Linked DNA regions of Homo sapiens: all the other regions are linked to region 2. The links come from fine-mapping of genetic effects on gene expression. A gene starts in region 2. Each other region holds a variant in brackets. All regions are shown on one strand. Distances are between the middles of the regions.

Region 1 (7,617 bases), 170 kb before region 2:
CCCTCTCCCCTGATGGAGATCACGAACCCAGCGCTGCTGTTTGAGTAAAGGCTGCAGTCACCCTCTCCCCGATGGAGATCACGAACCCAGCACTGCTCTTCAGGTAAAGGCTGGGGTCACCCTCTCCCCACACTGGAAAGCCCATTCAAGACCAGTGCTGCGGGGCCCTAGATAAGCAAAACCACATGGCTAGTAAGTCAAAGCTTACCAGTATCACTTAGCCAAAAAGTCTTCTAGTAGGAAAAGAAAACTGCCTACATCCTTCGTTCCACCTCGCGGATGCCGGGAACATGGAGGTGCAGTCTCCACCTCCCCAGGGACCCTGTGAGGCACGGGGCAGAGTCCACACCCACACCACACGCTGTGCCCCACCAGGTGGGAACAAGCTGGACAGGTGCATGTGAGTGGCCGGCCGCCTGGGCATCCTGAGGAAGCCGTCCTGAAGGATGTGTGGGAGGCACAGGAGCTAAGAGAGATGCAGCTCAAGCAGAGGGAAGAATTCCAGCAAGGCTCAGACACGGGAGCCACATCAGGGCCTGACATGGGAGCCACAGCCAGGCCCGACACGGGAGCCACGGTGGGTCCCGGACATGGGAACCAGAGCAGGGCCAGACATGGGAGCCACAGCCAGGCCCGACACGGGAGCCACGGTGGGTCCCGGACATGGGAACCAGAGCAGGGCCAGACATGGGAGCCACGGCCAGGCCCGACACGGGAGCCACAGTGGGTCCCGGACATGGGAACCAGAGCAGGGCCAGACATGGGAGCCACGGCCAGGCCCGACACGGGAGCCACGGTGGGTCCCGGACATGAGAACCAGTGCAGGGCCAGACATGGGAGCCACGGCCAGGCCCGACACGGGAGCCACGGTGGGTCCCGGACATGAGAACCAGAGCAGGGCCAGACATGGGAGCCACGGCCAGGCCCGACACGGGAGCCACGGTGGGTCCCGGACATGGGAACCAGAGCAGGGCCAGACATGGGAGCCACAGCCAGGCCCGACACGGGAGCCACGGTGGGTCCCGGACATGGGAACCAGAGCAGGGCCAGACATGGGAGCCACAGCCAGGCCCGACACGGGAGCCACATAGGGCCCAACAGACACACCACGGCCCCGACACAGGAGCCACAGCTCAATGCAAGTGCCTGGTTCTCCAGCCTCACATGAGGACCTGGGAGGATGTCAGGGGGCTGGGGAGGCTGGAGAGACAGAGTAACCCTGTTATTTAAAACACCAACCAGAGTGTGATCAGAGATGCCAGGGCAAAATAAAGTGAGGTGAACCTGTCCAAGAAGAAGGTGTGGTTTAGGAAGGGCTGGTTTAAGAAGATCTGGTTTAGGAAGGTGTGGTTTAAGAAGGTGTGGTTTTGTGCCTCTTTTTAGAATTTCTGCTACACAGGATGTGATAGTCCCAGGAGGAAACCTACACAATGAAAGAAGAACCTTCAAAAGCCAAAACGGTGACCCAGTCGTCACTATGTAGCCCCTTAAGCCAGACCTAGATCTCTTGTGCCATATAATAAAATGATGGCCTCCAAAGACTCAATGATCGTTTGCTGCCAAACACCTGCTAACTGTCCTACATAAGATGTGAATAAGTATTTGGTGACAAATCAACTGCTCACCCCAAACAAGTGAATTTTGTGTGAAAATATTATCAGCTTTACATGGAAAATAGAGGACCTACATTGGCAAAACCTTAGAAAAGCAACTTCAAAAGGAAACGGTACCTTTTAAGAATAAAATACATCAGCCTGCATGGGACCTGAAGGATCTTCCTACTCAAAGGCTGCTGTGTTATTTTGGAAATAGGTTTCTCCTCTCTACCAGGAACAGCCTCTATCCTGCAGCTATTTTAAGACCTACTTGTTTTTTCCTAATAAGGATAATTATCTCCAAATAATCAAAATAATTAAGTGGTCATGAACAGTGCACTCCCAAACATCTATGGCAACAGCACAAGCTGACCTTTGCACAGTTTGCGTCACGTGGCTTTGATGCCTCAGCAATCTGGTTTTCGTCTGAGGTGTGGGCAAGGAAACGCCGTCTTCATTGTGAGCATCTAACCATCCTTCTCCTCCTGTTTTAGCAGAGAGGAGCATGGTTTCTGACGTGCCCATCCTCACAGTGTGGGATGCTGTATCTCCAAATGGCACCTCTGACACTCAGAGAAGACAATGACATCATGTTTCTCAATATCAAGGACCAGTTGTTCTCACTGGACAAATGACTGTGTCATCTTTAAATCAATAGTCTGGGTCTAGAGTGTAACAGATTAGATTCCACCAGGAAAAGGTCTTCCTGCCACGTGCACTCCTGAGAGGCAGCAGAAGCCAGCCTCTGTCACGGTCCCTTTTACCAATGAGAAGCGAAACTGACTTCCATAAATTGCACTCGTATCACCTGTGTGAAGACCACAGTGCAGCTTGGCTTAGAAGTGATGCAACTTTGTGCTATCGAAAAAAAAAATAAGTTAAGAATCTTGGACTCTTCAAGAAGTACACTAGGGGCAAAAGACAGATTGAAGTGCACGTGACAAGGTCAAGACCAACCAAAACCAGGAAACATTTATTGAGGGCTTTCCATGCAGCAAGCATGTGAGAAGCTCATTATGTCTTTTAAGGAAACATCTTGCCCACCAATATTAAAATCGGACTTCAGAGACAAGAGATGACACCAGATAATGGAGGAGGAGAACTCCCTCCTGACAGGGCCATCAGGGGGATGGAATTCAGCCAGCAGCTGAGCACAGCCTGCAGACACGGGGTCAAAGGCAAAACACCCTTCACTAGGCATGCACAGGGACGGGTGTGTTTGCACCATCGTGATCTCTTCCCCCACCCTCACCTGCGAGATCCAGAAAGAAGCTGATTCATTCAACAGAAAGCAAGTTGATTGCTCACACAAGGACCATACTCTCATTAAAAAAAAATTACTAGAACCAACAGATTCCTCAAACCTGCCTCACAAGGAAGACACTGAGGAGGTACACGGCTGGGAAACCATGAAGAACTAAGACAAAGACAGTTCCTAACAAGCCAGCCCAGTGAGCTGCACGGTGTTTACCAAGAGCTGGCAGAATAACTGTGCTGTGTGTCCCCGGAACCACATTCCGCCCTCTGCTTCCCTGTGTCAACCATTCTCGTTACTCATGTTGTGGAATCGCTATGAACACGTAGCAATGAAACATGTATAGACTGTGGACATTCTGCTCTACCCTGTCCTCATTTATAAGCCGAACATCTTTACTTTTTACAATTTAAAACCTTTCTACCAATGACAGTACAAATAGTACAGGAAGCACAAAAGTTTACTCATCCGGAATTCATCC[A/G]GTTTCTGTATGAGACAAGATCAAGCACGTACTCTAAACAAAGTACGCTGTAGTGTGATTTTCATGTCTCTGAGATGTTGGTTAAACATACACAATCTGGAGATATTTAGAGAAAAAAAGATCAAAATGAAACAAATGGCAAGTAGCTTTGAAGCTTCTTAATGATATATCAAATTCACCCCATGACGTCTTTTTGTGACTGCATTTTTCAATTATTATAAATTTTAATTCACCTCTGTTTAATTACAATATTTCTTTGTAATTAAACTCAATACATACATTCAACTCATGTTTTCTTAAAACCTAAACTTTAGCTTCATGAACTGTTGATTCAGTGAAAAAGGAATGTCAGAAAGTGACAGTGAAATGTAGGTAGAATGAATAAAGGGTTCTTTGGGCTGTGGGGTTCAGGAGCATCTAGAGAGGTTAGGGTGCTGTGTGCTGATCTGATTTGTGAGGGGCCCTTTCTTTCTCTTCCATGTCTGACCTTCCATACACAGCAGCAGGGAGGAAGCCCCCCAGGTGCTCCCCGTGTGGGCTCCTGGCCCCCTGTCTCCCTGCCTGGACTCAGGGCCCTCTGCAAGGAGGTAGGAGGCCTCAGAGTCAGACAGGCCCCCTGGGAAACAGAGTCAGATAAAGTCTTTTTCATTCCAAATTTGCAAGAAACTGCATGGTGGGGCCTGTGGATTCGGGCCACACTCGCGGGTGCTGCTCACCTTGTAGCTGGCGGCCCTTGTACAGGTCCCGGGCTTTGGCTGGGTGGGCCCTGGCCGTGTTGTCACATTTCGGCTGCTCGTACCTATGGGCGGGGGGAAGGCGGGGGAAGGAGAGAGAAAACAACGGGCTTGAGACCAGCTGTGGTTTGTCTTCCATTTCTGGAGTGTCCTACCCTAGCATACACCGTGACCTGTGGCTCTGATGCTATGACACCCATGACCTCCTCACTCCTTTCTGTCACCTTTGTGGATATTTGGCATAGAAAGCTATTGCTTGCAGTCAGTAGGAAGAAGCACACTGTGACTTCAATCACACAGCAGGGCCGTCTCTCCATCCCGTCTCTGAAATGAATCTCATCTAGCAGCTGCCAAGCACCCACACCTCCCCCTCCTCCCGTTGCAGGGTTGGATGGAGCAGCGCCCACACCTCCCCCTCCTCCCGTTGCAGGGTTGGATGGAGGAAGCACTTGGGTTGTTTCGTCAGAGCAGGAGTGTGTGCACGAGGACAGAGGGTGTGACCACTACCCCCACCCCGCCCAAGGAAAGGATGCAAAGGACTTCAGGATTTAGATTCCTGTAGCACCAAAGGCCAACTCATTTCCAATCCACCTCGTGAAGCTACGAAAGTCTGCCTCAGTGTTAAAAAAAAAAAAACGACTCTCTGGTCCCACTTAGCATCAATGACAAACTGCAGGTTAAGTCCTGAACAGACAGGGCTGACATCCAAGAGGGCAGGTGCCCTGGCTGCTGCGGTTGCAGAGCTCATGGGAGCAAGTGGCTCTGTGGTACTACTGAATTGGCAGTGGGAACCAGGGTGCCTGTCCCTAAGGGTGTCAGATTCAAATCCGGTAAACAGCTCATAAACACTGCCATATGCATGCCATTCAGCAGCCCTTGACCAAGGCCTGCTTTGCCTGGGTTTTATCCTTGTCCTGGGTGTAGGGCAAGGAGGAGACCCCTGCCACGCAGACCACCAGCCTCATCCAGTAGAGGAGGTGGACATTTAAACAGAGTGCGGGCCACCATGAGAACCTGCCTCCCGGAGCCCCCACCCCCAAGGAGGACAATCTTCCGCACACAGAAATCCTTCACTGTGGCTTTCACCAAGAAGTGGGGCTTCTCACCAGCATGAAGGAGACGCCGGGGAGGTGCGTTCCCGGGAGATGGGAGATTCCTGGGTCAGCACACCCACCGCCCCTTTCTGTGGACTCGCAGGACCCCAGACAGCCCACACCAACTTTCCTCGCTTCCCCTCCACTCAGCTGACCTCATGCTGCATGGCGGCTCCCCAGCCCCCTGCCCCTCCCATCCATGAGTGTCAGGCACGTGGAATCCTTCGTGGCGGCCTCCTCAGGCCCTGGCAAGTGACACACTGGGAGACGCAGTGCCCGCCAACACCATCATGGGGCACAGGTGCAGTCTTGGGGCTCCAGAAAGACTCCTTGGAAAATGAAGAAGACAAGCAGGAGGCCAGCGGGAGGGGGTCCGGCCCGGAGCCCTGAGGTTGTCAGGAGGCCAGCGTTCCGCCAGTTCTCATCCTCTCCCTCTGCCCTATTTTCTTTTTTCATTCTTAAAGAAAGGGCTACAAGATCCTATTTACTTCACAGAGATCACTTTAGGTTCTATTTTTTTCATTGCTTACATGCTTTTCAGCCATAGAAAATAAAATGAAATTTCTCTCTAAAGGGACATATTTAAAGTGTTCTAACAGAGGCCCCAGAGAGTCCAGCAGTCCCAGTGAGAGGACCCCATCCAGCTGTCATAAGAGTCAGGAACCACACATTCCTGCCACCCTTGGCCCTCAATAGCCTCTTTGATACCAGAAAACCTGCCACCCCAGTCAGACAAACTTAATATATCTTTTTGAAATATTGTTTTTGAAATTAAAGTCTCTGACACACTCTGGCAAACAGTTAAGCTATCACATTCTAACTGAAAGCCATTAACTCATATTCTTTGAAAATGTGGGGGTGGGGGTCAGCTCCAAGAGGTCACAAGAAAGGCGAACTCAGTAAAGGACCTGTTACCCAGCCAGGTGTCTCCTAATGCAGCTGCTGCTGCGGCCAGCAGGTGAGAAGTAAAACATTCACCCAGAGATGATGTGTACAGGAAGCTGGCTTCCTGAGGGATTAGGAAGCTCTTATTTTTACTTATGCGTGTTAAATTTGTAGAACTAGGGCACTCTGAGGGCTGAACGATCTTCACTTCAAGCTCCGGGTCAGTGTCTCAGGGGCCGAATTGAGACCTACATTAGAATGGACCCTTCCTGCCCGAGGGCTTATGAAGGGGGAGCTGCCAAAAGCCAGGCGAATGTCCCAGCTCAGAATGGATGACGTAGACTCTGAGGATAGAGTTCCAGCCCTTAGGGGCCATCTTGCTTCTCCGAGTATCAGAGGGCACACCTCCTTAGAGCCCTGGACTGCTCTGTAGTGTTAGAAAAAGGAAGTGTTAACATGAACTCTGTTGTGCCCCTGAAGCCCTTCAGGATCAGTACCTGTATCCTTCACATGGGTGGCACGAGACTAGATCATTTCTTACCCTCATTCCAAATCTCCTAGCTTCGAAGCAATCAGGAAGCCAGCCACCTGGACGGGCATTTCGGTTTTGTTCCACATTTGGGATAGAGGTATGTTGCAAATCCTATCACTGATGCTAATATAAAAATATATATTTACATGACAGTATTCTGCTTGTTTTAATGAGTAGTGTGAAATGCCCATGACTTGCAGAATTGACAATCTCAAGAGAGGAGAAAGAGGAGAAATAAGTCCGTTAATTTCAGCTTTGTCATCCATCACCATTCTTTTCAATAGGTTTATTTTAACTTATTTGTATAAGGAAAAACACAAACGTCTCTTCTCTCATTGCCCATCAGATACCAGGTTCTCTGCCAGGGAGAAATGCAGTCCTATGCCCACATGATCCCCTGCACACCCCACTGAAAGACACGCTCTGGGGTTGGGGAACAGAGGCTACACACCTCATTGAGAGACATGCTCTGGGGTCCAGGAACAGAGGCTGCCCAGATGTGAGGTAGGAACAGCCAGCAGTTGGATGGCAGACAGACAAAGGCTTCATCAGCCTCTCTGTTCTGGGCATGAATGCAGAATCTGGCCATCAGCCTGACTCAGCTCAGTCTGATGGCCCCTTCCCATTCTCTCCTCACTACTGTTAGTGGCTGAGGGGAAACTTGCCCCTCGGCTCCCACCTGGACTCTACCATTCATGGGGGCCTGCACTCATGACAGGTGCCTGGACCCCTCCTTCCGGGATCTGCAAACAATGACGAAGATGCCAATTTTGACACAAAAGTCAGGGGCACTAGGAAGGGCTGAAGCCTCTGCCCCTCCTCATATCTCCTTCTAAGTGATGGGTCCAACTAGAAACTGCACCAGAGCAAGCTGCTCCTGCCTCATCTGGGCAGAGTGGCATGTACTTGTGGTCCTTGGGATGAGTCTGCCACAAAACTAACGCCTTTTAATTCTCATGCATGGTGACATGAGGATAAGAGAGGTCACATATCAAAGACGATGCAATTTATGTTTATAGCTTCTTACTGTTACTGGATTAT
Region 2 (7,617 bases):
AGAATGACTTTGGTGGAAAGAAGAGAGATCATTACCAGACAAAGTGGATTCTCTGAATCTTAAACATAAAGTAGCAGAGGTGAGCACACCAGCAATGCTGGACCCACCAAGAAAGCACACTCACCATAGGTGAGTAAGACAAATGCGTGGTCCTGAGAAGCCAGGTATGGCAAACTGAAAGCCCCAGAGAGGCTGACATATTTCCCTGCTTCTAGATGAGAAGAAATGAATGGAGTAGAAGGAGGCAGAGAGGCAAGCTTTCCTCCTTGGTCTATAGAGTCCCACATGGCTACTCCCACAAAGTCCACAGATACACCCAGAGCCAAGTGGTGTGCTCTGAGAATCTGCGGCAGGTGAAAATACTGCAAAGTTGAATCCACACACACCTTAATGCCACAACGCTATATGCATTGATAATTACGGTATCAATTGATAGCACTCTCTTATACGGACCCACGGCATGGGCACCATCAAAACAATGTTAGCTGGAGAACTCACATATAGTAGGCGCATTAAAAGCCCTACCTTTAATCCTCACCACATGCTTGAAAGAGATTATGTATTCTCATTTTACAGATAAGGGGACTGAAGATTATGAAATTAAGTAACTTGCCTGAAGTCACACATCCAGCAAGACCCTAAGCTGTGGGTCCCACCCACTGCATGGACTGATACTGCCTCTTGATTTATTAAAGTAGGTAGGATGCAAATCGTAGGGAGAGAAGGCCCTTCTTTGAATGAGGGCCTCCGGAGACAAAAGAGATTTCCAAAAACCAGAAGGCAATTTGAAAAGAGATGAGCACACTGAAAAATCCTGCACATCTCACATCTCCCAGCGACCAGTCAGATTTCAGGCCTGCCTCAGTTACTTTGTAACTCAACTACTTCTTGATTTTCTAGACTGGGGGTGGGGTGAGAAGAAGTGTGCCAAAATGTGTTATGGCTTTAATCTTTTCTTCGGGATACTGATTTTATTTGCAAATGTAAATTTCAGGCAAACTGTTCTTGGGGAATGCAGCCAACAGGGCAAAGCCCACGTGGGGTATCAGCTCCTGCACAGAGACCCCACATGCAGCGGGTCTCACCGCAACCCAAGACATCCTTGGGGCAACCTCAAGGGGGCAAAAGGTGAGAGGGTTCAAGTAAATAGTTAGATGAGACAGGGGAGAGAAGACAAGAAAACCTGCCGAGTCTTAAACTGTTCTAATTACTAACTACCTTGATTCTGCTCTTCCAGGGGGGACCAACAGGCCCAACCCCACCCCCCACACACACAGGGCAGCAGGCAGATGGCAGTCTCTACTTTTTGCGCTTTCAGAAAATCTGAAAATCCGTGGCAACTGTAGGTACCTGCTGCTACAGTCCTGGAAGAAAATGCTATGATCTCCTTTGGAGAATTGGCCTTAGTTTCTCTGTCTCCTCTAGTGTGCTTTAAGAGTATGTGGGGGGTCTTTTTGTGAGTGTATACGTGAGTATATTTATGTCTAGATGCATGTACAGATGTGCATATACATGAATGCCTCCAGTGAGTATCCTCTGAGGGCCCCCTCTGGGGAGATAAAGGATCTTCAGGGAAAGCCTGAGTGTGTGAAAACCTCCTTGGAGCCCCAGTTAGCAGTTTCTAATCTACAAGTCATTTGTGAGACACAAGGCAGGGACCCCGGGCTGCTGCAGAAGAATTTGAGGTATGAGCAATGAACTCACAAACCATCCTTCACACTGCTAAAACGCAAAAGAAAGAAGACGAAGAAAAAGAAAAAGAAAAAGAAAAGATGCCCACATGACTGTTTTAAATTTGCTGAAAGGCAGAACCGACCACAGCTTATTTCAACCATCTTTATTTTCAATACAATAAACACCTTTAGGACAAGTCCCCGGCCACTTAAAAAAGACGGCTGTCCACCAGAGGCGTTCTCACTACCTTCGTGTTTTCTCAAACACTTGTTCAAAAACACATTTAAGTGGAATGTTTTCGTTTCTGGCGATTGCATTAATGATGGGTTTGCAAACCCTGCAAGCCCAGGAGGACGGCTGGAGCTGGGGGCTGCAGACACCCGGCCTTGGCCCAGCGGCCGCCGCGGGTTGGCTTGGCCGGCGGGGGCTTGGCTCAGCCCCCTCTACATAGCTCCTCGTTTGACACCGCGTGCGTTGGCCGGGCCAAGGCTGTCGCATAGAAGTTACAGCTCAGAAAGAAAAACACACAGCGGTCAACCGCGGTGACCCTCGCGCTCAGGAGCGCAGCATCCCTGCCACGAGGAAGAACCCAGAGGCCCCGCAGAGCGGGGAGCCGCCGCCTGCCTCCAGTTCTGTCCTGAGAAGGGAAGAAAGCGCTTCTCTAATAACACTCAGGCCCGTGAAGAATCATCTGTAACCTCATCTGCTTCTTCCTCGGCTCACTTACGAGGGTCTCTGGGAGAGTCAGACCCACGAGTGGGGCCCACGACTGGCAGCCCCTTCAGCCGGCGAGAGGCCCGGGATCCGCGCGGCGCACGAGCCCAAAGCGGTCGGGAGAACACGCTCCAGGCCGGGTCCCCGTGGGCGAGGTGGGCGCCCAGTCCCGGCGGGTCTGTCTTGGCCTTGGGACAGTCCGCGGGGCGGCGCCGGCGCTCCCAGACCTGGTTCCCCACAGGCTCAGGCCCAGCAGTGAGTGCGGGACACCCGAGCGCACCCGCAGCTCCCACTTGTCCGGGGTCTGCAGGACCCCAGGATCCTCTCACAGCCGGGTCAGAGCCCCCGAGGCAGGTGGGGTCCCAGCCGGGTGGAACCCGAGGAGCCCGTCGCAGCCGCAGCAGGACCCCGGCGGGCAGGGTCCCCAGAAGCCCATCCCAGCCGGGTCCCAGGCGCGCACGCTGCGTCCTACCTGCTCCAGCCTCGCCGGCAGGCGAAGGCTCCACGGCCCCCGGGGCCACCTGCTCCCCGTGCCCAGGCGCCTGGGCCTGGAGCGGGGCGCGGGGACCCGAACCCGGCCGGCTGCAAGAGGCGGCACCACTTGAGCTCCAGGTCCCGCGGGCCCGGGCTTACCGTGAGCGCCGAGAACTTCTGAGCGGGCACCGGCGGGAGCAGCCCAGCGAGCAGCGGCAGCCAGCAGAGCTGGGGGAGCAGCATGGTGGCGGAGGTGGCGGGAGCGGGAGATCGGCCGCGTCCTGCGCCCTGGCACTGCAGCCGGGAGAGCCCAGTGGGCGAGCGCGGCTGGGCGGGCGCGTGGAGGGGCGGCTCCGCGATGCTCTCCCCACCGCTCCCGGCGGCCCGGCTGGAGCAGCTCCCCTGCAGGCACCCAGAGGTCCTCCGCGTTCTTTGCGTCCGCCCTCGCTCCTGTCAAATACCCCGGAGCTTCCCGGATCCTCCCCTCCCGCCCGCCTCTCTCCCTCCCCCTCTCCTCCCCCAGCCCCACCTCCCAGCGCCCGCTGCCGCGCCCGCTCCGCTCCGGTGCCCGCTGCGGCCCAGAGGCCTCCCTGGCGCGGGTCTGCGGAGCGAGAGGTGGAGCGGGGGCCACCAGGGCTGCGCAGTGGCCTGTCCGGGCTGTCTCTGTGCCTCCTTCCCCGCGCGCACTCTCACACACACACGTGCACACTTACACACACGCACACCCAGGCACACGCACGCACTCATACCCACGCGCGCGCACCCTCGGGGGGCTTCCAAGCACAACCACGGGACGCACCGCGCCCTCCTCACGCCCCAGGGTCCAGGCCCGGTCCGCGCAGGATCAGCCCAGCGGGACTTTTCATCCACAAAGGTTAACGCCAAGCCTTGGCCGGTCCCCAGACTCCGGGGTTCTCCTTGACCTCTGCCCTCTAAGGCCCCCTGGTCCAGCCCAGAACATTGCCTCTCAGAGGTGCTGAAGGATCAGCGGCGCTCCAGCAAAGGCAGCTGGGAACACATGTCCAGGAAAGGCTGCGCCGGGGGCAGCCCGCCTTTGGCATCTTTACACGGGGTTATCCACTGCAGGGATGGGGGAATTTAGGTCCTAAAGATCCGGGGTCTGACCTGGGCTGTAGCCTTGATCCTCTCAAGTCGGGGGAGCATGTGGTTGGGCATCATTCACAGACACATGTGGCTGTTTTTAAACAGCTCTGTCAAAGCATTTCAGGTGTTTGTGCGGGGAGCACAGGGCTTGTGGAGGTTGTAAACTCACCCACGAAGACTACGTTGGAAACCAGGAAATTTTTGCACACCCAGACTCTGGATAATATCCACTGCAGACAACATTGCTGACATAGTTTAGCCTTGGCTTATAACTTTACAGGAAAAAGCCCTAATTCTGTCTCACACAGAAAGCCAGAAGAGTGAAGATTTGTTCAAGAACAATGAATCAATTGACTTGTCAGGGGCATTGGGAAAAGCACAAAACACAGAAAATCCAAATCTGAGGTTTCATCCGATGTCTAGCCCACTGCTTTGGCTATGAACTTTGGGGGAGGGGGCTGTATCAGCAAGTTCTGGGACTGGCTGCTGAGGCAAAGGCAATGCTATTGCAACCTTTCCCACACAATTTTATCAGGAAAGTGATGTCCGTCGGGCCACGGAAAGACGGGAAAGAAATGCACCTTTTCCTGAAGGAGGGCTACTCTCAGAATTCTCCTTAAAATTCCAAAGCCCAGGGAATCTATTAAGCACTTAAACACATTCCTCCTGGTTTAAGGACTTAGAAGGAAATTATAATAAAACTCTTGAGGGACTGCTCCTGGGTCCAGAAAAACAGGTGAGCAGAGCAGCTGCAAATGATTAAGTAAATAGGAATCACTGTTAGGGAACTGCAGTGAAAATTAAAGTAAAAAGAAAATAAACACTACATACCACTAATTCTAAGATTATCCAAAGAATAAAATTTACACTCGAAGCTGACATACTTCCTTTAAGAAGTATTTGCTACTAAAGAACCTGTTTTTCACTTTCCACTTTGTTGAGAGTACTGCTCGTCAGAACTCAAAAGTTTGAAAGCATGTTCATTTATCCACCATCGTCCGCTGCAAGAATGGCAGACAAGAAGCAGACTTAATTATTCCCATTCTACAGATGAGGAACAAAAGTCAAAGGGGCCAAATGTCTTAGCCAGATCTCCTAAGCAACAAAATCATAAACAGAATGCAGATGTTAAAACCTGCAATACTGGCAAATCCATGTCACTTCCTCTGGCAATATGGAGAACAGAAGAAAATCCTTGGCCCTCCGTGCCTTGTATTCAAGAATCCCAACACGTCTTTCATGTAGCAACTCCAGAATCCTCTGGGAACTCTAGGAAGATAAATGAAATGCATTTGTCCAAAACTCTGACAGATGAGGCAGGTTTGGAGCCTTTGAAACCCCTTTCAAATCTGGAGGAGCTCATGTGTCCTGAATGCCAAATTTTAGTTTCTCAAAATTCTAGAAATGGAGTTTGGAGAGATAATCAGGTTCCATTTTTATGGAGAAAAACAATACATTTATTTAAAACACTGGGAAAGAGTTATGTCTGTCTTTTATTTGTAAGTCTCCAAGAAAGTTATTACTGGCAGGAATGCCAGAGAGCTGTCATGTTAGAAAGGATAGAAAAGTAATTCACTCAGTTCAAAGTTAAGACAGGAAGTGATCAGCTCTATACTTTCCAGAGAGTTCCTCTAGGATGCAGGAAGAAGTTCCCCTCTCTTGGAAATGTAGGTTTTTTTGTTTTTTTTTTTAATTAAAAAGTGATGCAGGGCCCATTCTAAAATGTGGCTTATGCATTCAGAATTTAAATGCCTGTCACTGATGAAAGTTACAATAAAGAACAGCAAGAGAAACTAATTACCAAAGACTCCAGCTGTTTTCACATTTCTAAACTAACTTTCCCTCTTAGGCCATTAGCAAAATGCTTTATCATGAGTATTGGCTTCCTTTTTATTTATTTTACTATGCTAAAACTGCAAAAGGATTTTATTTTCATTATAGAAATGATATAATTTAGTTATTATTTCTGGCTAATTCATGTTTAGCCAGAAAACTTTTTGTCAGCTATTTTCCCATCTCAATATGCCAAGCATAAGTTTAGTCAAATATCTCTTTGTTGATGCAGTGACTTCCAGAAATCCCCTCTGCCATCACTCTGAGTATCATCTGGGACTGAACTCAGGTCACTGTTCATACTCTGAGAATCACCCCACATCATCAGTCACCTGCCAGTCACTTATTAATGTTTTCTCCTAGTTTCTACTTAATCATGGGAGCAGGAGTTTTCACCGTTCACCTGGACTTTCTTAGGTAAGTTCTGTGTGATTTTCCTTTTAGACTACCCCCAGGCTGGACCCGAGAATCTGTAGTTCCCCAGGTTTCTGGAGTCTCTGTCCTCTTGTTGGCTTGTTCATTCTGATGACTTGCATCTTCCTTTTAACTTGTTCCCTTCAACCTACGGAAAAATGATGCAGGATCCCCACATCAATCCCAGGTTTTTAGCCCAAGTTCTGCAGCTTCACAAACCTGTGAGCCATATAGAAAGGAAACCACATCGGCAGAGTTGACAAAATCAGAACAGAGCACCGCCGAGGCTCACCGTCACCGCGGCTGCAGGATGAGGCCAGCGTTGACACACCACGTTGAAAAGTGGACAGTGGAGTTGTGTGTTTGATCCTTGGGCCTGACTCAATGGCTTTCTTCCTATTTTGATATATTTAAGTAACAGAGAATTTGGACTTTGTGCTCAACAAAATAATTAAACAAGTTTCTTCTTTTTTTTTTTTTTTTTTGAGATGGAGTCTTGCTCTGTTGCCCAGGCTGGAGTGCAGTGGTGCAATCTCGGCTCACTGCAAGCTCTCCCTCCCGGGTTCACACCATTCTCCTGCCTCAGCCTCCCGAGTAGCTGGGACTACAGGCGCCCACCACCACGCCCAGCTAATTTTTTGTATTTTTAGTAGAGACGGGGTTTCACTGTGTTAGCCAGGATGGTCTCCATCTCCTGACCTCGTGATCCGCCCACCTCGGCCTCCCAAAGTGCTGAGATTACAGGCGTGAGCCACCGCGCCCGGCCTCTTCTTCCTTCTTAAGATGCCTGAGGACAATTTTTATGATAATACTTTTCAGGCACTTTGTGGCAAATTTTTAAAAAATAATTTCAGCTTTTATTTTAGACTCGGGGGCACACGTGCAGGTTTGTGACATGGACATATTGTGTGACTCTGAGGTTTGGGGTATGAAAGACGCAGAGAGTGAGCATAGCACCCAATAAGCAGTTTTATCAGCCCTTGTTCCCTGCCCCACCTTTCTAGCAGGCCCTGGTGTCTACTGTTCCTTCTTTATCTCTGTGTGTACCCAGTGTCTCATTTCTTCTTTATCTCAATGTGTACCCAGTGTCTAGCTCCCGCTTATGAGTGAGAACATCCAGTATTTGCATGTCTGTTCCTGCATTAATTCACTTAGGATCATGGCCTCCAGTTGCATCTATGTTGCTGCAAAGGACATGCTTCCGTTCTTTTGTGGCTACATAGTATTCCGTGGTGTCTATGTACTACATTTTCCTTGTCCAGTCCACTACTGATGGGCACCTAGGTTAATTCCATGTCTTTGCAATTGTGACCGGTGATGCAATTAACATACAAGGGCTTGTGTCTTTTTTGTAGATGGTTTATTTTCCTTTGGATACATACCCAGTAATGGGATTGCTGGATC
Region 3 (7,617 bases), 210 kb before region 2:
AGGGAAATCTAGTACACACGTGCAGGGGGATCTAGCACACACGTGTGAGGGGATCCAGCACACATGTGCAGGGGGATCTGGCACACATGTGCCGGGTATCTAGTACACACATGCAGTAGGATCCAGCACACACATGCAGGAGTATCTAGCACGCATGTGCAGTGGGATCAGGGCATGCACGCATCTCACAGTGCTGTCTCTGAGCTGAAAAGTCAGACCCGGCTTCTCCTGGCTTGCCTCCTAAGAACATCTGGGCTCTGGCCATCACAGGTTTCTCTTACTTCCTGTCACGGTTGGGTAGGCCAGGCCCACAAAAAAAAGTATTTTCAATTGTTAAAACTGCTATAACCATTGGAATAACTGGTCTGGGCCACAGCAATGATTTTACGGCTTGTGAACTGGCCTAACGTTTAGTTGGAGCTCAGGTGCAGGGTTGGTGAGTTCCTAACATCTGGTTGGAGCTCAGGTGCAGGGTTGGTGAGTTCCTAACATCTGGTTGGAGCTCAGGTGCAGGGTTGGTGAGTTCCTAACATCTGGTTGGAGCTCAGGTGCAGGGTTGGTGAGTTCCTAACATCTGGTTGGAGCTCAGGTGCAGGGTTGGTGAGTTCCTAACATCTGGTTGGAGCTCAGGTGCAGGGTTGGTGAGTTCCTAACATCTGGTTGGAGCTCAGGTGCAGGGTTGGTGAGTTCCTAACATCTGGTTGGAGCTCAGGTGCAGGGTTGGTGAGTTCCTAACATCTGGTTGGAGCTCAGGTGCAGGGTTGGTGAGTTCCTAACATCTGGTTGGAGCTCAGGTGCAGGGTTGGTGAGTTCCTAACATCTGGTTGGAGCTCAGGTGCAGGGTTGGTGAGTTCCTAACATCTGGTTGGAGCTCAGGTGCAGGGTTGGTGAGTTCCTAACATCTGGTTGGAGCTCAGGTGCAGGGTTGGTGAGTTCCTAACATCTGGTTGGAGCTCAGGTGCAGGGTTGGTGAGTTCCTAACATCTGGTTGGAGCTCAGGTGCAGGGTTGGTGAGTTCCTAACATCTGGTTGGAGCTCAGGTGCAGGGTTGGTGAGTTCCTAACATCTGGTTGGAGCTCAGGTGCAGGGTTGGTGAGTTCCTAACATCTGGTTGGAGCTCAGGTGCAGGGTTGGTGAGTTCCTAACATCTGGTTGGAGCTCAGGTACAGGGGTGGTGAGTTCCTAACATTTGGTTGGAGCTCAGGTACAGGGGTGGTGAGTTCCTAACATTTGGTTGGAGCTCAGGTACAGGGGTGGTGAGTTCCTAACATTTGGTTGGAGCTCAGGTAGAGGGTTGGTGAGTTCCTAACATTTGGTTGGAGCTCAGGTAGAGGGTTGGTGAGTTCCTAACATTTGGTTGGAGCTCAGGTAGAGGGTTGGTGAGTTCCTAACATTTGGTTGGAGCTCAGGAGCAGGGTTGGTGAGTTCCTAACATCTGGTTGGAGCTCAGGTGCAGGGTTGGTGAGTTCCTAACATCTGGTTGGAGCTCAGGTGCAGGGTTGGTGAGTTCCTAACATCTGGTTGGAGCTCAGGTACAGGGTTGGTGAGTTCCTAACATTTGGTTGGAGCTCAGGTACAGGGTTGGTGAGTTCCTAACATTTGGTTGGAGCTCAGGAGCAGGGTTGGTGAGTTCCTAACATCTGGTTGGAGCTCAGGTGCAGGGTTGGTGAGTTCCTAACATCTGGTTGGAGCTCAGGTGCAGGGTTGGTGAGTTCCTAACATCTGGTTGGAGCTCAGGTGCAGGGTTGGTGAGTTCCTAACATCTGGTTGGAGCTCAGGTGCAGGGTTGGTGAGTTCCTAACATCTGGTTGGAGCTCAGGTGCAGGGTTGGTGAGTTCCTAACATCTGGTTGGAGCTCAGGTACAGGGGTGGTGAGTTCCTAACATCTGGTTGGAGCTCAGGTACAGGGTTGGTGAGTTCCTAACATTTGGTTGGAGCTCAGGTACAGGGGTGGTGAGTTCCTAACATTTGGTTGGAGCTCAGGTAGAGGGTTGGTGAGTTCCTAACATTTGGTTGGAGCTCAGGTAGAGGGTTGGTGAGTTCCTAACATTTGGTTGGAGCTCAGGAGCAGGGTTGGTGAGTTCCTAACATTTGGTTGGAGCTCAGGTGCAGGGTTGGTTATTCCAGTGGTTCCCAGGTTTGCACCTCAAATACCAGAAGACAATCCATTCTGGGGGAAGCCAACCGTGGTCTGAACAGTAAAAAGGCTCATTGCAAACCAACACGCAGTTCATGCCCTTTGAGCCTGGGCTCTCCTGGGCAAGTGGCATGTGATGAGTCGCCAATTATCATTATTATTTCTGCAAACAGACGCCCAACAATTAAACAGCATATTTGATTTTTTGCACTCCCAGGCCATAAACACAATCTGTAATTGTGTTTGTGAGAAGCAGACCTCCCAGGCCTCAGGGCCTGACCACTGCCCAGGGTCGGGGGTGGGAAAGCTCTTACTGTGGCGTTTCTTGGTGTCCGCTTTGCCGTCCTCTTTCGCCACGCCCAGGCAGCCCATCAGTTCTTGTACGGAGATGGATTTGTCATTATTCACGTCACAGTATTCAACAAACTTCTTCACACATTTTTTGGGCTTTGATTTTTTGCGAAGGAACCTCTTGAAGGGTTTGATTTCCTTTTTGCCGATGTCTCCACTGGAGTTTTTATCCAGTAGTTTGAAGTACCAGTGCACCACCCGCTCCTCTAGGGTATGGCTGGGGTCGGGTTCTGAGAGCCTGGAAGGAACACAGATGCCGTCAGGATGCTTAAACCCCTGGGCTGCTCCTTCCTGGCCACTGTCCTTCCCTCAAACCCATAACCCCTGCTTGTAGTTCTCATGGTCCTGGTGTCTCAGCCTGCAGCACTGGTCATCAGATATAACAATTTAAAGAAATAATTTAGAAGAACATTTTTAGCAAAGATTTTTCAGGTTGGATTCAAAATTGTAAATGATGCAGTGAATTTGTGCCCAGCAAAGATGCACTTGAAGGACAAAAGCCCCCTTATCCTGGCTTCTGTGTGCACAGGACTGGCAGGTCAGCACATGCAGCTATACCCGCCCGACACACCAGAACCCTGAGCTTTTCTAGCCCTGTAAATGTGATTCTTTTACACATCCTTCATGTCATAGGAATATCAGATGATGCAAATCAAAAACATTTTAAGTTGGGACTAGATATTTTTCCTTGGATTATGTTAGGTTCAATATTTTAGGGCATACATAAATAAACTCTTCTAGAAGGTGCGGATCTTTAAAAGTGCACCAAATGGCAGACACGCACCTTCTCCGTGAGATGGAGGGTGTGTGTGTGCGCATGGG[A/G]TGGCCCTCCTGGAGGTGCTGGCCCCTGGATTCTGCCTGTTGGGATGAGCTGTACATTCCCAGGTATGAGAACACCGTGAACTCCGACACCATTGCCAATTTCTCAACCTTTCGGAGGATTTTCAGATAACAATCCATTTACTGCCATCAATTTTAGTTTGCATTTAGTTTAGTTTGCAATTTAGTTTAGTTAGCAATTCATTTACTGCCTTCATTTTTAGTTTGCAGTTTAGCTTAGTTTGCGAAAACAATCTTTCCAAGAATAGAAGATGTAAAGTTGAAATTTACATACAGTTTGACTCTATTAAAATTTTTTTTTTTTTTTTTTGAGACAGAGTTTTGCTCTTGTTGTCCTGGCTGAAGTGCAATGGTGTGGTCTTGGCTCACTGCAATCTCCGCCTCCCAGGTTCAAGTGATTCTCCTGCCTTAGCCTCCCGAGTAGCTGGGATTACAGGTGCCTGCCACCATGCTGGATTAAGTTTTGTATTTTTAGTAGGGATGGGTTTTCACCACGTTGGCCAGGCTGGTCTCGAACTCCTGACCTCAGGTGATCCACCTGCCTTGGCCTGCCAAAGTGTTGGGATTACAGGCGTGAGCCCCTGCGCCCGGCCTGCTCTATTAAATTTAATTTCCTACACATTCATGACATTTTCTGTTAGTATTGCCTTTTTATTTCCTTAAGTCTTCTTTAGCAGACAGACAGTGAGAGGAGAGGCTTTTAGTTCAGGAGACCAAAAAAATCACCTAAAGTGGCTGAGATAATCAAGGGTTTGGGTGTCAGGGGCTATGGGGAGAAAGGCCAACATTCTAAAGAAAGAAAAAAGATGAAATCTCCATCAAAACTTTATTTGAAAGAAACAGATAAACTATGGCTAGATCAGGGGGAATATCTGATGCTTGAGATGCCATCGCAGTAAAACCCTGGGGTTCTTCTGCTCTCCTGAGGCTGATCTACAGAGGGTGGAAAAGAGGAGTGTTGGAGAATTCACCGAAAGCCACTCCACCGAGCTCCAGGCCCCAGGTCCAGGAGTGCGGGAATGCCTACCAGGTACTCAAGGAACATCTCCAGGGTTCCAAAAATCCTATTTTGAACAGTGTGAATGTCTTTGATGTAACTGAATCACATGCCTGAAAGTGGTTAGGACAGCAAATGTATGTGCTGTACATTTTACTGCAGTAAACCTAATCACGTTTTGAGAACTTCAGATTAAACGTTGTCATTCAAAGTATTTACAATCCAATCGATGACTCTAAAGTGCAATTTCAAAGCACAAAGCCCTCTGCAGGAAGTGCTCCCCCTGCCCTGCTCCGCACCAAAAGGGCCAGGGTCAGAGCCCACTACCCCGCAGAGGCCCAGGAGTCACGGCTCAGGGCCATGTACCCCTATGGGAGTGTTTTCAGTGATTTAGTCTTGCTACAAGAAAACCTGCTAAGCAACTTCCTGTGTTTGCAGAAGGCTCCTTTTTAAGGCCCTACTGTGTCCAAATAAGCTGAGAAGGTTGCCAATATGTAATGTTCAGACTTTCCAGATTCCCCAGAATTCTGGGACCCTGCCAACTTGTTGTCCCACGGCGAACACAGCGTACCTGCCTGACGAGGAGGAGGGGTCGGAGGCGGCGTGGACCATGTCCGTGGACAGCGCGTCCAGAACGCTGGTCAGAAACTCATGCTTTTTGGCACCCGGACAACCTGAAAAACACGTGTATGTTTTCATAATTAACTCATAAAGCCTAACAGATTTTCCTCTAAAATACAGGGAAATGTTGTTTTACTGTTTGGAAATGAGTATTTTGGCCTACCTTAATCTTAATGAGCTAGTTTAAACACAAACACATTGCATTATATATATTGATTTTGAGCCATAGCTATTATTAATTCCTCTATTGTTTGAATTATTACGTGAGACTAAAATTCACAGGCATTAGTATCTCACTGATCTTCAGAACTGCAATCGGAGGTGGGCAGTGTCACTCATCCAGCGAGTGTGGCAGCAGAGGCACCGGGTGCTTAGGGACACGGGACATACGGAGTGCACGCTGAGAGCACATGAGGCTGGCCATCCCAGCAATCGAGGCCAGGGCCTGTGATTCACCGCCACCCCCACCCTGTCCAGAGCCACCTCGCTTCTCAGAGCAAAAGGAGGCAGTAGGGCAAACAGCAGGAGCTCCCCAACGCCCGTCTCCTGGGGACTTGTCCACACCACGGCATTGGCACGAACAGTCCACAGCAGGGTTTAGTGCTCATAGCTTTGGAGCCCAGCGCGGACTGTGTATGGATTCTGGGGTCAGGGAATAATTCAGGCACCCAACATTCTGCAGCGTGACTTTCCCCTCCATCCTTCCCTCAACACCACTCTCCTCTCCCACCGGTTAGGAATTCCCTGACACCATGCCTGAGACACTCGTCCCACCCCAAATTCAAGATAACATTTGAAAGAAGCCATCCACTTTCTCTGGGGTCTTTTCTCCTGAGACCGTTCCCGGTGCTACTGCCCCAGTAGCTGGACACAGGCAGCATCCCGTGTCCTTATGCCCAGGGTGGCATGGACAATGGACAACATAGGTCTCCTCTCTCTGGATGCCCTTTTGGCATAGAGAAGCAGCTCAGCTGCCCAATACATGCTTGCTGGATCAATAAGCAAATGCAAGAGGTAGGAGCCCCACCCTCGTTTCCCCGATGAGATCGGCGGGTTTAAGAGCTTCACAAGCAGGGAGCAAAATTTGCCGATTCCAACTGGGTCTATTTGTGTGTAAATATCCAGGGGAGAGGTGACAAACGGAGCTTGTTACCATTTACATTTTGTTAAATTTTTATAAAGAAAGCCCTTCCAGAGTTCAGTAGAAAGAGAAAGATACCGAGGGGAAAATAGAAGACAGAAGCCAGGCACCAGCCCTGGAGGGACAGCGTCCCCACTGAGCCACGCTGCACTCTCAGACTCCCTGCTGGGGAGGCTGCCTCTCCCTGGGGCTCTGCTGGGGCTAGGGACACCCACGGAGACTTCTGAGCCTGGAGAGCACCTCGGGCATTAGAACATCTGCTCGGACCGTCCTCACCACAGCAGGAAGGGAGTTTACACCACACACCTTCTGCCCAATTTAGATTCCATTTTTTACTAAGAAAAGTTTTAGACGGCCCCGCCAAAGGGAATCTCAGGAGCCCACTCAGTAAGTGGAGGACGCGGAGAGCTGCAGAGCCCAGGCAGAAAGCCGAGTGGGACTGAGGACGGCCCCTTCCCCGCCTTCCCCGTGGCCCTCAGAGGAAGGATTGTCTGAGATGAGGAGGGCTCTCTCTGGACTCCTCAGGCAACAGGACAGGCTGAGGGTGCCGTGGGGAAAGGCAGTGCCACACGTGATTCTCAGACCCCTGGGTCGAGGGCACGTTGGCGTGGACCACCCCTGGGTCAAGGGCACGTTGGCGTGGACCATGTGGCCGTGGTGTGGACAGCAGCCAAGTCGTTCGGAGACCAGCCTGTTTATGCAGTTAGGGACGCCCTGGTTTTCCTAGGTTTCTTTTTGACACTGGAGTTTTGTGTGATTGCTCTTGAAGCACACGTGAGCTGCCGATAGCAAGACTCCACAGTCATGCTGGCTTCCACTTCATTAAACACACATGTCAGAAAACAGATGTGCAGCCTTCACCAGGGGGGTTCTGAGAGTGCAAAAAGGTCTGTGTTAGTCTCTTTGCACACAACTGAAAAAGGAGATCAAAATCTATAGCAAAAAGCATCACGGCCACGGGGCAAATGCTACTTTCCAAGAAAGAAGTAACAGTCTCATCGAACATCCCCTCAGAAAGGCAGAGGACCTGAGGCTGCAGAGGCTGCTGGCCGCGGTGCTTCCAAAGCTGCCCAGCCCACCCGGCCTCGGCTCCCTGGGAGGGGCCTCCCGGTCTACAGAAGGCTGAGCTCCCCAGCTGCAGGACTAACCAGGAAGGGAAATGAGAAAAACAACTTGGAGGGCTGAAAATGCCTCCAGGGCACAGGCTCGGGAACACGTGGGCAGAAGCCCTGCCAGGCCAGCCGTCCAGGAGAACTTGTCCAGGGCGACGAGACAGGCGCCGGGGCAGGTGAGGCTGGGACCCACAGGACCTCGGGCACCTGCCTGCCAGGGCTGCTCTCTATGAATTTCCAGTCCTCCACTGGCCTCCAGAGATTCTGAGAGGAATATGGATTTGATGGAGAAGAATATTATTATCTGGGAGAAAAGGCGTTTTAGATAATCCTCAGTACTGAACAGCTTTAAGAAAGAATTATGTGGATATTTGGTGTGGTAATAGGGACACACCCAGGGGGATTTTTTTTGGCTGTT
Region 4 (7,617 bases), 180 kb before region 2:
AAGTTTTCGACCTTGGTTGGTCATCCAGGGTGTCCAAGGAGTTTGACACGCGGCTGATGCATCTGGGCACTGCAGCCTTAGTCTGTCCAATTAAATTCTTAAGGAATTATCAGGAAGAACATAACTCAATTGCTCCTATCAGCTGGGCCATTTCTATTAGTCTTGCCTTTATTCTAGAAGTAATAACCGCAGTGCTCTGGCCAATATCCAACCTGGATAATTGGATTTTCCCTGTCTTGATCCCCCTTGGAATTAATTTCTCCTGCAGAAGTGATTTCTCACGTTCACTCCTCTCTCCGCACAGTGTCAGTGCTGCCCATGCTGTCTGCGGTTCCCTGACTCAAAGGGTGCTATCTAGGGTGAGGGTGAAATGTTCTTGACATTGGTACAAGTCTGGAAAAGAGTTTACAAGAATTCTACCATAATATTTTTAGACATAGGGAAAATTTTCCTATATATCAGTCTCCATTTTCCCAATATTTCAAACTGAAATAAGGTGGCTTTCTTGTTCAAGAGCATTCATCCCAGGGTCATAAACCTGCAATCCTCACAGCCAGGTCTCAGCTCCAGAGTACGGGAGCTGGATCTCTATTGACTTGCATCTCCCAGAACATTGGCAAGCACCACCTATGCAACAGGCATGTAATAAATACTTGCTTGCAAAATTAGAAAACAAAGGGATTTGTAATTCTCATGAGAAGGTAAAGCAGAGAAGGCACCATGCAGTCTTAGTATTCTGCCAGCGTTGGGTTTAAAGACATAGGGGAATCAGGAAGATAAGCGCTTCCAAGTGAAAACAATAAACATGATTCAGTGAAGAGATGAAATACCGATAGCTAAAGAACGCTCAAGGCATCTGAATTGCTTGGTTTGGTGGAGGGGAGAGACCACAGGCAAATATTACACGCAGGTAGGGCTGTGTGTTTCATGCCTGAGCAACCTGGTGCAGGGGATCTGAAGACCTGAAGGCAGTGACTGCCAACCTCAGGGAGCACAGAGCCCGTGTGTCCGGAACCTTGAGAGCGAGCTGGACAACGGCCTGCCGGAGCACAGTGACCATGACTGGTACGTAGAGTAAAAGGGCCACAAGACACAGAGCGTGTAAACTGAAGCTGTGGGCTTTCTAACCATGGCAGGCACTGGCTACACAAGGGACAGCTGGCTGTGGAGACCTTCCGACTCCAGGCAGAGTCCCCTCTGTCCGGACTGGCCTCACTGTGGTCTCACCTGAAGTGCACAGCCTCTGAGAAAGAAGGGCGCTTTCAGGAGTACCACGGTGGTTTCCTGCCTGAGTCAGCGGCAAACGGGAAGTAAGTGAGACTTGCGTTATAGGAGGTTTTAATTTGATTATGGTAGAGCCTCAATCAATTCAGAAAAGATAGGAGGGAAGTCTAAACTAACCACTGTAGGCCAGTTAAAAGCATACTTGTTATTTTTAAGTGTATACCGTACTTGGAAGGCTTTTAAAGTAGTTAATCATTTAGGATAAACTGCTTTAATAGAGTTAGGAATTATTTGCAATAGAATAACAATTGTTTAGAAATTAATTTAATATATTTGATAGTGTTGGAGACCAGTTTGTTCTCAAGTTATTTAAATTGTCTCTGAAATATTGCTTACACTATTAATTTGTCTGGCAGATGCCTTTTTCATGATGAACGTAAATCTAAACTTTATTCCATCTCTCTTCTGCATAATCATAACTTTCAAAGTAACGCAGGCTAAACTGGCCAGAGCTGACTGTCCTGTTGTCGTTCAGAATGCTCCCTGCTGTCTTTGGGAATTTTTTAAATGGCACTTTATCTTTAAAAATCTGGCTCTAAAGGAAACCATAAACAAAAACAAGCCACATTGCTTCTAAAATAACTCAACAATGTGCTGTTGCGGTCACCGGCGCTGCTCAGAACTCAAGTTCTCCGATCCGTGCTGAGGGTCATTTTGTGTCAGGTCATAGGTCATCTAACACTTGGTTCTCTGATATTCTAGCAAATTCCTGGGTATTTTAAGATTAAGATATTTATTGTCTTATTATATTGAATAAACAAATAAAATGCAGCCCATAATTTCAGAAATTGGTTCCCAGTTTAGTGGAGTCTGTGGAGTAGTGACTGAAGGGCACTCCAGCTTTCCTGCCATCGCTGTCTCTCCCAGACCGGATGCCCGTGTGCCTGCTGCGTCGAGAGCCCATAGTCCCTGCAGGAGACGATGTCACCTTCCCCATCGCCTAAGCTGGGCTACTGATGTCCTGAGCGCACCGTCTTCCTGTCTGCATCTGTGCTCACCCCATGCGGGACATTCCTAGCCCTTCCATCGTCATTCCCTGGCCTTGTCTTAACTCTTTTACCACCTCTCCTTGACTCGCCTCTTAATGCCACTACCTGCCTCTCCTCAACTCTCCTCTTAATGCCACTACCCACCTCTCGACCCTCGTTTTAATGCCACTACCCACCTCTCCTCGACTCTCCTTTTAATGCCACTACCCGCCTCTCCTCCACTCTCCTAATGCCACTACCCGCCTCTCCTCCACTCTCCTAATGCCACTACCCGCCTCTCCTCCACTCTCCTAATGCCACTACCCGCCTTTCCTCCACTCTCCTCTTAATGCCACTACCTGCCTCTCCTCCACTCTCCTCTTAATGCCACTACCTGCCTCTCCTTGACTCGCCTCTTAATGCCACTACGCTGGCTCTTTGCCATTGGATGCCCAGTGAATTGCAAGCTGTGTGTTGTTACTAATCATGATCGGCTTGTTTGTAGGGCTCAGTGCAAAATGGAGCACGGAGGCCTCGCGTTTAAAAATTAATTATTTCATCGTGGTGATAGCACAGCAATAAACCGAGGGTCCTGTTGGAGCACTGGGCCCTGGGGCGATGGTCCAGGCCACTCCCATGCAGGCAGCCTTGCGGCTAATAACACGCCATAGGACAGATCCGTTTTCTTGGATGGGAAATAAATGGGTGGGTTAAAAATCTCAGATTATTTTATCCCTGGCAGACCCCATAAACCTGGCAATCCATGTCAGCATGCCTCTCAGGGAAATGACCTGTGTCCTGTGTGCTGGAGGCATGGCCCCTCAGCGAGGCGCTGGACGCGACCCCCGCCTCTCCAAGTAGGCCATGCAATCAGGCGAGATACAGTCCCATGCATGGCGGAGAGAAGAAAACAGAAAATGCACTGGGGTAAGGCCAGGAGGGGCCCCATCGGTCACAACAAGCAGTTCACATTTAATCTGGAGCCAGGAGACCCTGATGATGGGAAGCAATACAGGCCAGATCTGGGGTTTCCAGACACCTCTTCTTGCTGCATGGATGGGGATCAGAATCTACTTACAGTCTATTTGGAAACTCGCCTGGAGGAAGCAGTGGGGCAGCCAGCGAGATGCAAGAGAGCTTGGAGCAGAGACAGGACTTGTCCAAGCGGATGTGAGTGCGGGACAAGAGTGGAGTGCCCCTGGCCCATCAGAGTCCTAAACTTTTGCTTGAAAGGTCATGGGAGAAACTATAGCTCCAGCTTCCTGCCCCGTCTTCAGAGTCCACGAATGCAGTGCCCTGGGCCCCTGGGAGACCCGTCCTTGGGTGTGAGAAAAGCTCCTGCTCAGCCACGTCGGTGAGAAACAGCCACCCTGCTCAGTTATTCACACTCAGCTGTTGAAGTATCAATTAATAAACAGAAAAAGCGCCCAGCACCCTCCTGTACATAATTAGACATTTGTTAGTCTTTCCTCTACATGTTGAGGAAAATAAAACGCCTTTGTTTATTTAATTTCTCTATTCCTGTTCTTGTTTTTTTGAGAATGATGAATTCCCACATTCCCCCAAACCTCCAATGTCTCCTTACTCTCAAACATGAAGACAAAATATCAGCCAAAAGAAATATTGTAATAAAATCCCACTGAGAATTCTGCTGGCCTTGCTGCAAGAGTAGCCATATCGCTCCTTCTTAGTTCTCATCTCTCCGGTGCCCTCTGCAGGGTGCATCCTGTCCACTTTCTTTCCCAGGAGAAAAGGCAAGCGCTGAGTGAAACGCTCACTTCACCTGTGTCCCTGCACCTGCGTGGGCTCCCTCAGCTGCTGGAGGAGCTCCCTGCAACCCCCCCGCAGTGCAGCGGCATCTCGGGATGCTCCACAGACACCGGTTCTTGAAAACCACCTTTTCCCAACCGCTTGACTCCTCGGCACCCCTTGTCCCTGCTCTTCCTGTCTTATGATGCCTCTGGGATGGCAATTATATGTGTGGTTTTTCTGAGTTTTTATTTGCAGCAGTCTTTTCTCAATAAAACTGATTTAATGGTCCATTTCACTGTTACGCTTCCTAAAAACTGCAATTTCCTTCAAAAGTGTTACTAATCTTATTCATGGGCAAATTTCATATTTAGACATCCAACTTAGTGGTCAAAAAATAAAATAATGTAGATTCAGCTCTCTCTTCCAAGTGGTGCCATGTGGAACGGTCTCTTGCCATATCTGGGACTCCCCAGCCCTACCCATGAGGCTGAGTTGATGTTCTTTAGGTATCATGCCACCAGACAGCTCTCAAAAGCAGAATGCCAGGTTAAAAATCCTCTCTCACAGACAGCCTCGCATCCCAGCCTCCTCAACACCCAGTCCTTGTCCCAGCCTCATGGGTCATGGAGAGTCTGAGCCTGTGCCCTGAGCAGCTGGTTCTGGCGTGAGCCTGTATGGACACAGAGTGCAGATAGCTCACCTAACTACTCACATCCCCAGAATTACAGTAGTATGTTTCTAAAGCCTGAAGCTTTGTTCCCAGCTCAGCTAAAATTTAGAAGACTCGTGTCTGTAAATTCAGTCTTTGATATGACAGCAGGGATCACAGAAGTAGACATTTTTAGTGGGCAGAATATTGACACCTCGTGTCACCTTTGTGAGGCTCTCAAAGGCCACCAAGCGAGGTCCTGGCCGGCTCCTGTCTGCTTTGTAGAAAAGGTAAACACCGAGGTCCTTACATGTCACATGATACCTGGCAGGAATGTGTTGCTCCTGATCTAACTACCTTTTGGAAAATGTCCTAAGCTCCACTTAGGGCAAGGTAAGG[T/A]TCATTTTATGCTCTCTCAGAAAACCATAACTAATCTTCAAAAAATTAGAATAGTGCTAAAATCGTGTCTGAAAAATCCAGGTGTTGCCTCTAAGGTTTCTACATGAGTCAAAGACGATAATTATGCCAGCAATTGCTTGGGGCCCCAAGAAAAAAGATGCTCCTGGCTGTAGATGTGAAGAGACCCTGTGCTGGCTGTAGGTATGAAGAGGCCCCCTGTGCTGGCTGTAGGTGTGAAGAGGCCCTGTGCTGGCTGTAGGTGTGAAGAGGCCCCCTGTGCTGGCTGTAGGTATGAAGAGGCCCTGTGCTGGCTGTAGGTGTGAAGAGGCCCCCTGTGCTGGCTGTAGGTATGAAGAGGCCCTGTGCTGGCTGTAGATGTAAAGAGGCCCTGTGCCGGCTGTAAGTATGAAGATGAAGAGACCCTGTGCTGGCTGTAGGTGTGAAGAGGCCGTGTGCTGGCTGTAGGTGTGAAGAGGCCCTGTGCTGGCTGTAGGTGTGAAGAGGCCCCCTGTGCTGGCTGTAGGTGTGAAGAGGCCCTGTGCTGGCTGTAGGTGTGAAGAGGCCCCCTGTGCTGGCTGTAGGTGTGAAGAGGCCCTGTGCTGGCTGTAGGTGTGAAGAGGCCCCGTGCTGGCTGTAGGTGTGAAGAGGCCCCATGCTGGCTGTAGGTGTGAAAAGGCCCCGTGCTGGCTGTAGGTGTGAAGAGGCCCCGTGCTGGCTGTAGGTATAAAGAGGCCCTGTGCTGGCTGTAGGTGTGAAGAGGCCCTGTGCTGGCTGTAGGTGTGAAGAGGCCCCCTGTGCTGGCTGTAGATGTAAAGAGGCCCCCTGTGCTGGCTGTAGGTGTGAAGAGGCCCTGTGCCGGCTGTAAGTATGAAGAGGCCCTGTGCTGGCTGTAGATGTGAAGAGGCCCTGTGCTGGCTGTAGGTATGAAGAGGCCCTGTGCTGGCTGTAGGTGTGAAGAGGCCCTGTGCTGGCTGTAGGTGTGAAGAGGTACTGTGCTGGCTGTAGGTGTGAAGAGGCCCCCTGTGCTGGCTGTAGGTGTGAAGAGGTCCCCTGTGCTGGCTGTAGGTGTGAAGAGGCCCTGTGCTGGCTGTAGGTGTGAAGAGGCCCTGTGCTGGCTGTAGGTATGAAGAGGCCCTGTGCTGGCTGTAGGTGTGAAGAGGCCCTGTGCTGGCTGTAGGTGTGAAGAGGCCCTGTGCTGGCTGTAGGTGTGAAGAGGCTCCATGTGCTGGCTGTAGGTGTGAAGAGGCCCTGTGCTGGCTGTAGGTGTGAAGAGGCCCTGTGCTGGCTGTAGGTGTGAAGAGGCCCTGTGCTGGCTGTAGGTGTGAAGAGGCCCCCTGTGCTGGCTGTAGGTGTGAAGAGGCCCCCTGTGCTGGCTGTAGGTATGAAGAGGCCCTGTGCTGGCTGTAGGTGTGAAGAGGCCCTGTGCTGGCTGTAGGTGTGAAGAGGCCCTGTGCTGGCTGTAGGTGTGAAGAGGCTCCATGTGCTGGCTGTAGGTGTGAAGAGGCCCTGTGCTGGCTGTAGGTATAAAGAGGCCCTGTGCTGGCTGTAGGTATGAAGAGGCCCTGTGCTGGCTGTAGGTATGAAGAGGTCCTGTGCTGGCTGTAGGTATGAAGAGGCCCTGTGCTGGCTGTAGGTGTGAAGAGGCCCTGTGCTGGCTGTAGGTATAAAGAGGCCCTGTGCTGGCTGTAGGTGTGAAGAGGCTCCATGTGCTGGCTGTAGGTGTGAAGAGGCTCTGTGCTGGCTGTAGGTGTGAAGAGGCCCCCTGTGCTGGCTGTAGGTGTGAAGAGGCCCCCTGTGCTGGCTGTAGGTGTGAAGAGGCTCCATGTGCTGGCTGTAGGTATGAAGAGGCCCTGTGCTGGCTGTAGGTGTGAAGAGGCCCCCTGCTGGCTGTAGGTGTGAAGAGGCCCCCTGTGCTGGCTGTAGGTGTGAAGAGGCCCTGTGCTGGCTGTAGGTGTGAAGAGGCCCCCTGTGCTGGCTGTAGGTGTGAAGAGGCCCTGTGCTGGCTGTAGGTGTGAAGAGGCCCCCTGTGCTGGCTGTAGGTGTGAAGAGGTCCTGTGCTGGCTGTAGGTGTGAAGAGGCCCCCTGTGCTGGCTGTAGGTGTGAAGAGGTCCTGTGCTGGCTCTAGGAGAAGAGGCCCTGTGCTGGCTGTAGGTGTGAAGAGGCCCTGTGCTGGCTGTAGGTGTGAAGAGGCCCCCTGTGCTGGCTGTAGGTGTGAAGAGGCCCTGTGCTGGCTGTAGGTGTGAAGAGGCCCTGTGCTGGCTGTAGGTGTGAAGAGGCTCCATGTGCTGGCTGTAGGTGTGAAGAGGCCCCCTGTGCTGGCTGTAGATGTGAAGAGGCACTGTGCCATGCCCTTTAGGGAGAGGCCTTGACCATTCATGAAGTCTGCTGGGTCCATAGAGCTTCCAGAAACACTTGGGTGAGAGGCTGTTTGACCAAAATAAAGACCATTTCTTAGACTGTGTGCCAGGCGGAAGAGCTCTGGGGATCCAGGAGAGGACCCTGGCTTGGGGTACAGGGCAGTAACAGAGGGGCCATGCCCAGGCTCCCCAAGGGGCTCCTCATGCC

What was found. PIP is the estimated chance that this variant, and not a neighbour inherited with it, causes the effect.
Region 1: its variant is the best candidate, but not a certain one, in a credible set for the expression of SMOC2 in substantia nigra (GTEx, PIP 0.67).
Region 3: its variant is the best candidate, but not a certain one, in a credible set for the expression of SMOC2 in aorta (GTEx, PIP 0.82).
Region 4: its variant is the best candidate, but not a certain one, in a credible set for the expression of SMOC2 in putamen (GTEx, PIP 0.82).

What each region holds. Positions count from the first base shown.
Region 1 is chr6:168,604,670-168,612,286 of GRCh38, reverse strand. SMOC2 (SPARC related modular calcium binding 2) reads right to left here. Exons shown (of 13, transcript NM_001166412.2): 9 at 4,048-4,130. Among named protein-coding and RNA genes, the nearest start is that of SMOC2, 170 kb to the right of the region's middle. RefSeq lists an enhancer at 5,163-5,699. The variant A/G (reference allele first, on the strand shown) is at 3,332.
Region 2 is chr6:168,436,859-168,444,475 of GRCh38, reverse strand. It overlaps SMOC2 (SPARC related modular calcium binding 2), which reads right to left and starts at 3,292. Exons shown (of 13, transcript NM_001166412.2): 1 at 3,022-3,292. The coding sequence starts at 3,105.
Region 3 is chr6:168,648,063-168,655,679 of GRCh38, reverse strand. SMOC2 (SPARC related modular calcium binding 2) reads right to left here. Exons shown (of 13, transcript NM_001166412.2): 10 at 4,897-4,999; 11 at 2,452-2,726. Among named protein-coding and RNA genes, the nearest start is that of SMOC2, 210 kb to the right of the region's middle. The variant A/G (reference allele first, on the strand shown) is at 3,311.
Region 4 is chr6:168,613,371-168,620,987 of GRCh38, reverse strand. All of the region lies in intron 9 of SMOC2 (SPARC related modular calcium binding 2), which reads right to left. Among named protein-coding and RNA genes, the nearest start is that of SMOC2, 180 kb to the right of the region's middle. The variant T/A (reference allele first, on the strand shown) is at 5,053.